Regions from separate parts of the Homo sapiens genome. Here region 1 is linked to region 2. Evidence: fine-mapped expression QTL. A gene starts in region 2. The other region holds a variant in brackets. All regions are shown on one strand. Distances are from middle to middle.

Evidence for each region. PIP is the estimated chance that this variant, and not a neighbour inherited with it, causes the effect.
Region 1: its variant is the best candidate, but not a certain one, in a credible set for the expression of ZC3H7B in whole blood (INTERVAL, PIP 0.63).

Annotation. Positions count from the first base shown.
Region 1 is chr22:41,340,207-41,345,573 of GRCh38, forward strand. It overlaps ZC3H7B (zinc finger CCCH-type containing 7B), which reads left to right. Exons shown (of 23, transcript NM_017590.6): 11 at 882-940; 12 at 2,323-2,422; 13 at 3,209-3,370. Among named protein-coding and RNA genes, the nearest start is that of TEF, 39 kb to the right of the region's middle. The variant T/C (reference allele first, on the strand shown) is at 3,160.
Region 2 is chr22:41,298,488-41,303,854 of GRCh38, forward strand. ZC3H7B (zinc finger CCCH-type containing 7B) reads left to right here and starts at 3,038. Exons shown (of 23, transcript NM_017590.6): 1 at 3,038-3,285. It also overlaps a transcript of RANGAP1 not described here. RefSeq lists silencers at 2,725-3,064, 3,345-3,414 and an enhancer at 3,146-3,647.

The sequences.
Region 1 (5,367 bases), 42 kb after region 2:
TGGAGAGTGGAGTTGAGTTACAGATCTGTTTGTCCCCATCACTCCTTAGCAATCCCAGGCCATGTCTGTGTGTTGCCGTCTCTGCAGTGCTCAGCACAGTGTGGGGCTGGGCCTGAGGGGTGGGTGTCTTGTTCAAGATCAAGCAGAGGAGAGCTGCGACAGTCCAGGCCTCTAGACTCCCAGTCTGGTGCTCCCTGCCCAGCCTCCCGGGACCCTGGGTCACCAGGCTGGTGAGATCCCATGGGATGATCCTGAGGCTGGGGGCGGAGCACAAGGTCATGGCCTCCCACTGCACCACTCTGGGCTGGGTGCCAGGGACCCAGGGAGGAAGCCGTCTTGTCTGGGCGCTGGTGGGGCTAGCTTTCGGCAGTCGGACACAGCCCAGGGCACTCGACTGAGAGGGCTTAACGGGACTGTCGGGGCACGGAGGGGACTTCACTCAGCCTCAGGGCCAAAGGAGGCTTCCTGGAGGAAGTGATGACTAGGCAGGGTCTTGAAGGAAAAGTTCACCTGCCAGGCAGAGGAAGCAGGGGCACTAGCCTGGCATGGCATGGCGCGGGGCTGGCTGATGAGCGGAGCAGCTGGGGTGGGGGCCTTGGTCTCCGAGGACCTGGGAGCAAGCTAAGGAACTTGGGCTTTCTCCTACGGGCAGCGGGAAGCCCTGGCAAGTTTAAGCAAAGAGTGGACACACTCAGGCTGGGAGGCGTCTTTGCCCCTGGGGAGTGGAGAGGAGAGGATAGAGTCAGGGGTTCAGCAGGAGTAGGAGAGGATGTGTGGCCTGGGGGCTTCTCCGAGTCAGCAATACATAAGGGGAAGCCCTAGGAAGGCCCCTCACGCCTCAGAGCCAGAGCCACTGACCCCTGTGTCTTCTCCCTGCCCAGAGGAGACCAACTCACAGGACCACCGTCCCCCTAGCGGTGCTCAGAAACCAGCCCCCTCGGTGAGTGACTTGAGTGGGGATCCAGGCCTCTCATTCCCTGCTGGGGGTTGTGGGTTCTAGAGTTGGGGAATGAGCCCTCTGCATGGGGTAAGGCACTGCATTCCCCACGGCGGGGCACTCCCAGAGTGGATGGATCAAAGATGATCACCTCGTGCCCTTCCTCACCAAGCCATATGCTGGGCGGGCACACAGAGGGCACCACTGCCCTTGTCTGATGGAAGAATTCAAGTCTCAGAGAGTGAAGTGACTTCCCCAGTGTTAGTAGCATCCCTGGTCTCCAGACTCAGTCCGGTCCTGAGTTTAAAAGAGCATCTGGGCCGGGCGCGGTGGCTCATGCCTGTAATCCCAGCACTTTGGGAGGCCGAGTTGGGCGGATCACAAGGTCAGGAGATTGAGACCATCCTGGCTAACACAGTGAAACCCCGTCTCTACTAAAAATACAAAAAATTAGCCGGGTGTGGTGGTGGGCACCTGTAGTCCCAGCTACTCGCGAGGCTGAGGCAGAAGAATGGCATGAACCCGGGAGGCAGAGTTTGCAGTGAGCCGAGATCGCGCCACTGCATTCCAGCCTGGGCGACAGAGCGAGACTCCGTCTCAAAAAAAAGAAAATAATAATAAAAGAACATCTGATGAGGGGCCAGGCGTGGTGGCTCATGCCTATAATCCCAGCACTTTGGGAGGCCGAGGTGTGCAGATCACAAGGTCAGGAGTTCGAGACCAGCCTGGCCAACATGGTGATACCCCGTCTCTATTAAAAATACAAAAATTAGCTGGGTGTAGTGGCGGACACCTGTAATCCCAGGTACTCAGGAGGCTGAGGCAGGAGAATCGCTTGAACCTGGGAGGTGGAGGTTGCGGTGAGCTGAGAGCACGCCATTGCACTCTAGCCTGGGCAACAAGAGCAAAACTCCATCTCAAAAAAAAAAAAAAAAGAGCTTGCTACACTCTGACCTACACTAGCTGTGTGGTCCTGGGGAATTTCCCTAACCTCTCTGAGTCTTGCCTTCCTCCCCATCTGCTGATGACTTGGGGGATTGGGGGAGGGCATGAGCACAGGCTGCAATCACGGCCCCTCCCATTTCTATGCTTTCACATTCAACTTGCCTTCAAAGAAAGGCTCAGAGCCAAGACCCAGGTCACCCACTAGCCTGGGACCATATGCTGGGACCAAGGTGGTCCTGATATTTTAGACTCTTGGACCACATTACAAAGAACTCCCCTGGCTGGGAGGGTGGAGGAAGAGGAAGGGTCCTGGGCTGTGGTTTTGCTCTTGGGTAGGATAGGGGGGTCATAGAGCACTCCCCACTTCTGGTGCCCTGGCTGGCCCCAGTGGCCTCAGCCATCATCCAGTGCCCACAATGGCCTCCTTCCTCCTGTCACAGCCAGAGCCCTGCATGCCCAACACTGCCTTGCTCATCAAGAACCCCTTGGCTGCCACCCACGAGTTCAAGCAGGCCTGCCAGCTCTGCTACCCCAAGACAGGTAAACTTTCACCTGTAGACTCCACCCCTCTGCCCAGAGAACTGGGAATCTCAGGAACATGGGATCCCAGATCAAAAGAATCCCAGTGTCTCAGTTGGAGATAAGTGCCAGAAATCAGAAGCCCCTCTGGGGCAGAAAAGGAAAGGGGCAGGAGTTTGGGGTCTGTCCCTGCCAGGCACCACCTTCACAGTCCTTTCTAGAGAAACACTAACATGGTCAGACTCACTAGAGAGTGAGGACGGTGGTAGAAAAAGGATGGGTAGGCCGGATGCGGTGGCTCACACCTGTAATCCCAGCATTTTGTGAGGCTGAGGCAGGCAGATCACTTGAGGTCAGGAGTTTGAGATCAGCCTGGCCAACATGGTGAAATCCTGTCTCTACTAAAAATACAAAAAGTAGCCAGGCTTGGTGGTGCTCGCTTATAGTCCCAGCTACTCGGGAGGCTGAGGCAGGAGAATTGCTTGAACCCGGAAGGCAGAGGTTGCAGTGAGTTGGGATCACACTACTGCACTCCAGCCTGGGTGACTGAGTGAGACTCTGTCTCAAAAAAAAGGAGGGGGGATGGGTGCCAAGAATGGGCTCCTTCGAGGGGCTTCCCCCAGCACAGTCCCCCGGTCTCCAGGGAGCAAGTAGCCAGGAAGGGTGTGGTGGGAGCTGGCAGGAGGCCCTCAGAGGGGAGGTAGGTATATAAGGAGGGGGCCGATTCCTACCCACCGCATGGGCCTGCCAGCCATCAC[T/C]CTTCAATTCTGCTTCCGGAATTATCATGTGTGTCCACCCTGCCCATAGGCCCCCGGGCTGGCGACTACACCTACCGTGAGGGCCTTGAGCACAAGTGCAAGCGGGACATCCTGCTCGGCCGGCTCCGGAGCTCGGAGGACCAGACCTGGAAGCGGATCCGGCCCCGGCCCACTAAGACCAGCTTCGTGGGCTCCTACTACCTGTGCAAAGGTGGGTGGGCTGCAGCGGGGCAGGCAGCACAGCTGGGGCCCAGCCCCTCCACCCCCAGCCGCTGCTCTACTCCCCATCACAGGTAGACAGAACAGGGGTGGGCCTCACAGCTGCACGGGAGGAGAAAGCCACGGCCTAGGCTCCTGGGGCCCGTGCAGGATGAATTCCACATCAGAATGAGCGTCTTCTTCCCTTAGCAGCTTCCAGAGGCAGGTGGGACACATTTGGGACATTCAGCTGGAGACCGAGCCCGTCACTGGCCTGTGCTCTGGAGTGTCAGGAGCCTACATGACTCATAGGGGGCTGGCTTCTCTTACCACTGTAGGGCCCTGAGGGGCCGCGGGGCAGTGTGCCCAGCAGCCACATGAAGCATTTAGGACTGGCGCATGGTGAGGGCTCCATCCACTTGAGCTCTCTGTCACTCTTCTGTTGTCACTGTCCTCATTTCTGGCTCACATCAGCCTGGTTGGTATTTAATGGACATCCATCATGTCCCTGACTAGCTTCTTTCTGGTCCCAGCCAAGCGCCTTGGTCCCGCTGTACGGCGATATGTGAATAGTCACGAATTGCTAAGGCCTTCCCAGTGTAGCCCTTTCATTTCACCAGCATGCAGCCTCACAGCTCTGGAGGAGGAAACGGAGGCTTTGAGAGTGCACCCACGGCTCTGCCTCTCCCCCAACCTGGCCCCTAGCAGTGGCCCGCCCAGGCCTCCTGAACTTGCTCCTTGTCCTCCCAGCAGCCAGGCTGGTCTAAGGACATGTCACTCTTGGGTCAAAGGCCTCCATCAGCCACTGCCCGTGGCCAGTGGGATGAAGTCCACATTCTGCAACAAGACCTACACGTGCCCGTATCCACCCCCTCACCCCTCTGCCCTAACCATTCCCCAAATGCACTGACCCTCCCTGATTCCGTCACACACGCTGTGCCCTTTGAGCCTAGTCACCCTCTGCTCCTCCTTCAAGCACCGCCTGAATCTTGGGAAGCCCTTCTCTGCGGTGCTTCCCCTTGCAATCACCCCCACTCCCACCCAGGGATCTGCCCCACTCCTCCAGGTCTGTGGCCTGTTTGTCCTTGTGCGCCAAGAGCCTGGCAGAGAGATGGGACAAGGCAGACTTAGAGTGGGAGGAGGAGAAAGAAAAACAGGTCCCACCCCCAGGAAACAGCAGAGCTCCAGGTTCTGAGCCACCTTTCCTCTCTCCAGATGGCCCAGCCCCCAGAAATTTTGTTTTGGTTTGTTTTTGTTTTATGAGACAGGGTCTTGCTCTGTTGCCCAGGCCAGAGTGAGTGGTGCTGTTATAGCTCACTGCAGCTTCAACCTCCTGGGCTTAAGCCATCTTCTTGCCTCAGCCTCTTGAGTAGCTGAGACTACAGGCACATGCCACCACACCCAGCTTATTCTTTAATTTTTAACTTTTTTGTAGAGATAGGGTTCTTAATTTGTTGCCCAGCCTGGTCTTGAAGTCCTTGCCTCAAGCAATTCTCCTGCCTCAGCCTCCCAAAGTCCTAGGATTACAGGCATGAGCCACCATGTCCAGCGCCCCCGCCAGCTTTATGTATTATCTCACTTGATTCCAACAACCCAGTCTCCTCCATTCATAGCAAAGACAGCTGAGGCTCGGGGAGTAATGAGGAATCCTAGCCCAATTCTGTCTGACGCCAAATTACATGCTCTTAACCATGCAGTGTTCTTTTCCTGGTGAATAATTATTTTTAAATCCCTTATATTTGCCAGTCACAGTGGCTCATGCCTGTAATCCCAGCACTTTGGGAGGCCGAGGGGGGTGGATCACCTGAGGTCGGGAGTTTGAGACCAGCCTGACCAACATGGAGAAACCCTGTCTTTACTAAAAATACAAAATTAGCCGGGCGTGGTGGCGGGTGCCTGTAATCCCAGCTACTCGGGAGGCTGAGGCAGGAGAATCACTTGAATCCAGGAGGCGGAGGTTGCAGTGAGCTGAAATCGTGCCATTGCACTCCAGCATGGGCAACAAGAGCA
Region 2 (5,367 bases):
TATTTTTCGTAGAGATGGGGTTTCAACATGTTGGTCAGGCTGGTCTCAAGCTCCTGACCTCAGGTGATCCGCCCACCTTGGCCTCCCAAAATTCTGGGATTACAGGGGTGAGCCACCACGCCCGGCCTCGGCCTCCCAAAGTGCTGGGATTACGGGCATTAGCCACCACGCCCGGCCAATTTTTTGTATTTTTTGCAGAGTTAGGGTTTTGTCATGTTGCCCAGGCTGGTCTCAAACTCCTGGGCTCAAGCGATCTGCCCACCTCGGCCTCCTAGTGTTGGGATTTTGGGTGTACCCCATCGAGTACAGTACTCACATTACCCCCATCTTAGTCACCTCAGGCTGCTATGACAGATACCATGGACTGGATGGCTTAAGCAGTAGAAATTTATTTCTCACTGATCTGGGGGCTGGAAGTCCACGACCAGGGTCCCAGCATGGTCAGGTTGTTGGTGAGGGCCGCCTTCCTGGTTTATAGATGGCTGCTTTCTTGCTGTATCCTCACCTGGCAGAGAGAGATAATCTCCCCAGTGTCTCTTATAAGAGCACTAATTCCATTCATCAGGGCTTCATTTTCATGACCTAATTATCTCCCAAAGGCCCCACCTCCTAATACCATCAAATCAGGGATTAGAGATTCAACATATGAATTTTTTTTTTTTTGAGATGGAGTCTCGCTCTGTCGCCCAGGCTGGAATGCAGTGGCACGATCTCGGCTCACTGTAACCTCTACTTCCCAGGTTCAAGCCATTCTCCTGCCTCAGCCTCCCGAGTAGCTGGGACTACAGGCGCCCGCCACCATGCCTGGCTAATTTTTTGTATTTTTAGTAGAGATGGGGTTTCACCGTGTTAGCTGGGATGGTCTCGATCTCCTGACCTTGTGATCCACCCGCCTCGGCCTCCCAAAGTGCTAGGATTACAGGCCTGAGCCACCGCGCCCGGCCTAATTTTTGTATTTTTTTGTAGAGACAGGGTTTCACTACGTTAGCCGTGCTGGTCTCGAACTCCTAACCTTAGGTGATCCACCTACCTTGGCGTCCCAAAGTGCTAGGATTTCAGATGTGAGCCACCGTGCCGAGCTACAGGGTTTTTGAGAGGGTAAAAGAATCAACATATGCAAAGTGTTTGGCTCATAGTAAAGAAGCGGTGGCTGTTACTGCTATTTCAGCTTTAACATGGGGACATAGAGCACACTGTGACAACATGGGACTGACAACATGGGGCTTCCCAGAAAGCCTACCGATGCCAGCCTCCTGGCCCTTTTCTTTTTCTTTCTTTTTTTGAGACAGAGTCTCACTCTGTCGCCCAGGCTGGAGTGCAGTGGCATGATCCCGGCTCACTGCAAGCTACGCCTCCCGGATTCACGCCATTCTCCTGTCTCAGCCTCCTGTGTAGCTGGGACTACAGGCTCCCGACACCACGCCCAGCTTATTTTTTGTATTTTTAGTAGAGATGGGGTTTCACCGTGTTAGCCAGGATGGTCTCGATCTCCTGACCTCATGATCCGCCCGCCTCAACCTCCCAAAGTGCTGGGATTATAGGCGTGAGCTACCGCGCCCGGCCTCCTCCTGGCCCTTTTCTCCAAAGCATCCTCACCTCTGGTTGGGGTCTTGTAATAAAGACCCCTTTACCATCTTAGGCAGCCCAAACAATTGAACAAGTTGGTACCAACTTGAAGAGATAAGAGGCTGGTGTCCTGCTGAATCCCCCTTGAATGATGGACAGTCCTCTTCAAGAATATGTGTTCATTATTTCACCAGCAACCTGGGGTGGTGGAATCACCAGACCATTTGCCATCTAGTTCACTTGAGGCAAAATGCAGCAATCCAACTGGCCTCAGCATCCTCATCGATGAAATGAGAGTGATAATAACCATGGTGGTAAATGTGATAAGTTGTCAAGGGTGTTTCATTGTAAATTGCCTAGGGGGTATTGGGAACTCACACACACACACACACACACACACACACACACACACACACACACACACACATATATTTCTGGAGACAGTTTTGCTCTTGTTGCCCAGGCTGGAGTGCAATGGCATGATCTTGGCTCACTGCAACCTCCACCTCTGGGGTTCAAGTGATTCTCCTGCCTCAGCCTCCTGAGTAGCTGGGATTACAGGCACCCACCACCACGCCTGGCTAATTTTTGTATTTTTGTAGAGATGGGGTTTCACCACGTTGGCTAGTCTGGTCTTGAACTCCTGACCTCAGGTGATCCACCCGTCTTGGCCTCCCAAAGTGCTGAGATTACAGGCGTGAGCCACTGCACCCAGCCCTGATTGTCAATATCTAATCAGGTTCCTCATTTTCCACCATTCCCCAGGTGATGTCTGATCACCTTGCCCTGCCTTCAGCAAGAATCTTGTTAGATGGGTTTAAGCGAGAATCCTCTCATCTCTGATGCAGTTTCCTATGCACTGGCGCTCAATCAGTGGATCCTTTCTCCTTCCTCATAAATTCCCAGTTGCCCATGCTGATTTCTGAATTGAGCCCAAATACTCTCCCTGACCGCAAAACCCACTGCAGTGGTCCCTACACCCATCATGATGCCAATAAAGTCGGCCTTGTAGTCTTTAACAAGTGTCATTCAATATTTTTTTTAACATCCTATACATAAAACTCCAGCCAAGTGAGGTCCTGATTCTTCTATGTGTCTCCGGTTCCCATCTATGAGAAGGGCACAACGCAACCAGGGTTTTGGGCAGCCTTCCATGAAAGCACCTGGAAGCCGGAGAAGGGGGGCGGGGGGACTTTTGACACAGATGGGGAAGGGCGGAGGCGCTGGGTTTGAGCAGCATCAGCCCAGAAATGCAGAACTGCCAAAAGAAACCCCCCTAAAAGGCAGGACACTTTTAAAGAAAATAAAGGTGAATTCCAGGCATGAGCTTTCGACGGGGAATGGGGCTTCCCCGACTCGCCCCCACGCCCCCCGCCCTTCTCCCCAGGTGCGCAGCCCGCGCCGCCCACCCCGGGCGCGGCGAGGCGACGGGAGCCGAGCTCTCTAGGACCCGAGGAGGAAGAGCTGCAGGGAGACAGTGCCTCCAGCGGGTGCTGCCGCGAGCGGCCAGCCGAGGGGCTGGAAATGAAAGTAAAGCGCTCCAGAGCCACATGGACGGAGCTGCCGGGGCGGCGGCGCCGGGAGCAGGATGCGGCCGCCCGTAATTAAATAGCATTTACTCTTATTATTACTAATAATAATAACGTAATCATACCTCTAGTCATAGCATACCATTTATCGGGCTCGGCGCAGGCCCGCGGGGAGCGCAGCCCGGCGGAGGTGAGTGCTTGGCGCGGCCCGAGCCCCGCGGGGCAGAGGCCGGGGACACTGCGTCCGGAGCCGCCCGCGCGCGAGGGTTCGGGGACGCCCGGGCCGGGCAGGGCTGGGGAAGAGGCGAAGAGAGCCCTTTCCAGGCCGGGGCCGCGCGCCGGGCCACCTGGAAAGTGGGATTTTGCAAAAAATAAATCGTCTCTAAAACCCCATTTGCTCCTTTTTGGGGATCCCGGTCCCCGTGCCCTGCCCCAAAGTTTAAAAGTTACCGTGTGGCCGGGGGCACCTGGCGCTGGGGAGACTTGGCCGCCCCTGCAGCCCCCAGGAGGTGTCTTGAAATTTTCGTGGGGCCTCTCTCTTCGGCGTCCGGAGCTTCTGGGGTGTCCAGATGCTTTGCCGACCCCGCGCAGGGGGTCTCGGGGGCTGGCAGGGGCGTCGCTGGCAGGGCCCCCCTTCCTTTTGTGTTGTCCTTGGCCCCGCAGCACCCGGAGTTGGAGGGGCCGCGGCGAGGGCCGGGGAGCGGGGCCGCCCGACGGGCCGCCCCTTTCGGCTGCGGCGGCCACGCGAGCCCGGGGATCCGGGGCCTGCAGCCGGGCCCGCGGGAAGGGGGCGGCAGGAAAGGGGGGCGCGGTCTGGGCCTGCTGGGCAGGGGGGCGTTTCCGGTCGCAGGATCAGTCTCTGGACTTCGAGGCCTGTGGGAGGCCCGCGGCCGTCCAGGGAGTGCTAGGGGGCTGCGGACCCCGGCTCTGGCGCCTGGGGACGGGGGCGCCCTGACGGGGCTGGGGGCCTGGGAGCCGCCGACTCCGGCCTCATACCCCCATCCTGCCCGCTGCGAACCTCAGGGCCCCCCTCCGGGTTTGCTCCCTCCTCCTTTCCCCTCCTTTCTCCTCAACTCTGTCTGTTTTAGGCGTTTATAAGGCGCCTGGTTGGGGGGACTTTCACAGACAAAGCCGTCTTCCCAGGGGGGAAAATAATCATATAAAAACAGCTCACTCTGATAGAACCTGATGGCTGTATTGCCAACAGGGCATTGACGGGGAAGACTAGGGGGCTAGGGCCCTGCGTGGGGAGTCTGGGGGCTCTAAAAGGGGGCTGGGCCTGAGTGGGGAGCTGGTGATCAGCGGTTTTATTTCTCGGGTTGCTAGCTTTGGCATCAGACTTTGAACCCCAACTTCTTGCCATATTCCTCAGCATCTGCAGTTCAGCCTGATGAAAATAGCAGAATGCAGATCCTTGAATTTTCACACAAATGAGATAATTATAGTACATGTAGCAACTGTGTTGGACACAAAATGCTGGCAGAATCTTTAGTTCTACTACCAATACTTCCTCTACACACATACAGCCATCCCCTCCGTGGTGGTCTTCTTTCCCCGTGTCCACCTCCCACAGAAGTTGGACTGCAAGGTGGAAATGACACCTGGTCAACAGTTGGATGGAGCATGTTTGAGAAGTGGGGAGACTTAAGGTGGGAAGAAAGAACCTGTCCAGGAGGGATGAGATCTGAGGATGGGAGAGAGACTTTGTTGTCCCTGAGCTGGGATAAAGTTTCTGTTCTGTAGATGCTGTGTGTTCTTAGCTGCTGGCTTTTGTATAGGTTAGACAGGAATGGGGGTTTTGGTAGATTATTGTGGGGCTTAGAAGCTTGGTGGGATGTGCTGATCTCTCGAGTCTTAGTAGGAAAGCTGAGATGTCGGTTGAGACATGGATAGAGAATCTGAAAATAATCCCTCAATCTGAAAATAATAATCCCTCAAATATCACTTTTTAGTTTATAACAAAAGGGCTTTCACATGTGTTGGCTCATCTGTCCTCCATAGCAACTGTGTCAGGTAGACATTTTCTAGATAAGAAACCTTAGGCCGAATTGTGTGTCTTGCTGGAAAGTCAGACAGCAGAGGTAGGATTCCCACCCAGTTTTCTGGCTCCAAATCGTCACCCTTTCCCAGAGTCCTGGGCCACCTTAGCAAGTTACTTTTCATTTATTTTATTTTATTTTATTTTACTTTTTTGAGACGGAGTCTCGCTCTGTCGCCCAGGCTGGAGTGCAGTGGCGCGATCTTGGCTCACTGCAAGCTCCGCCTCCCGGGT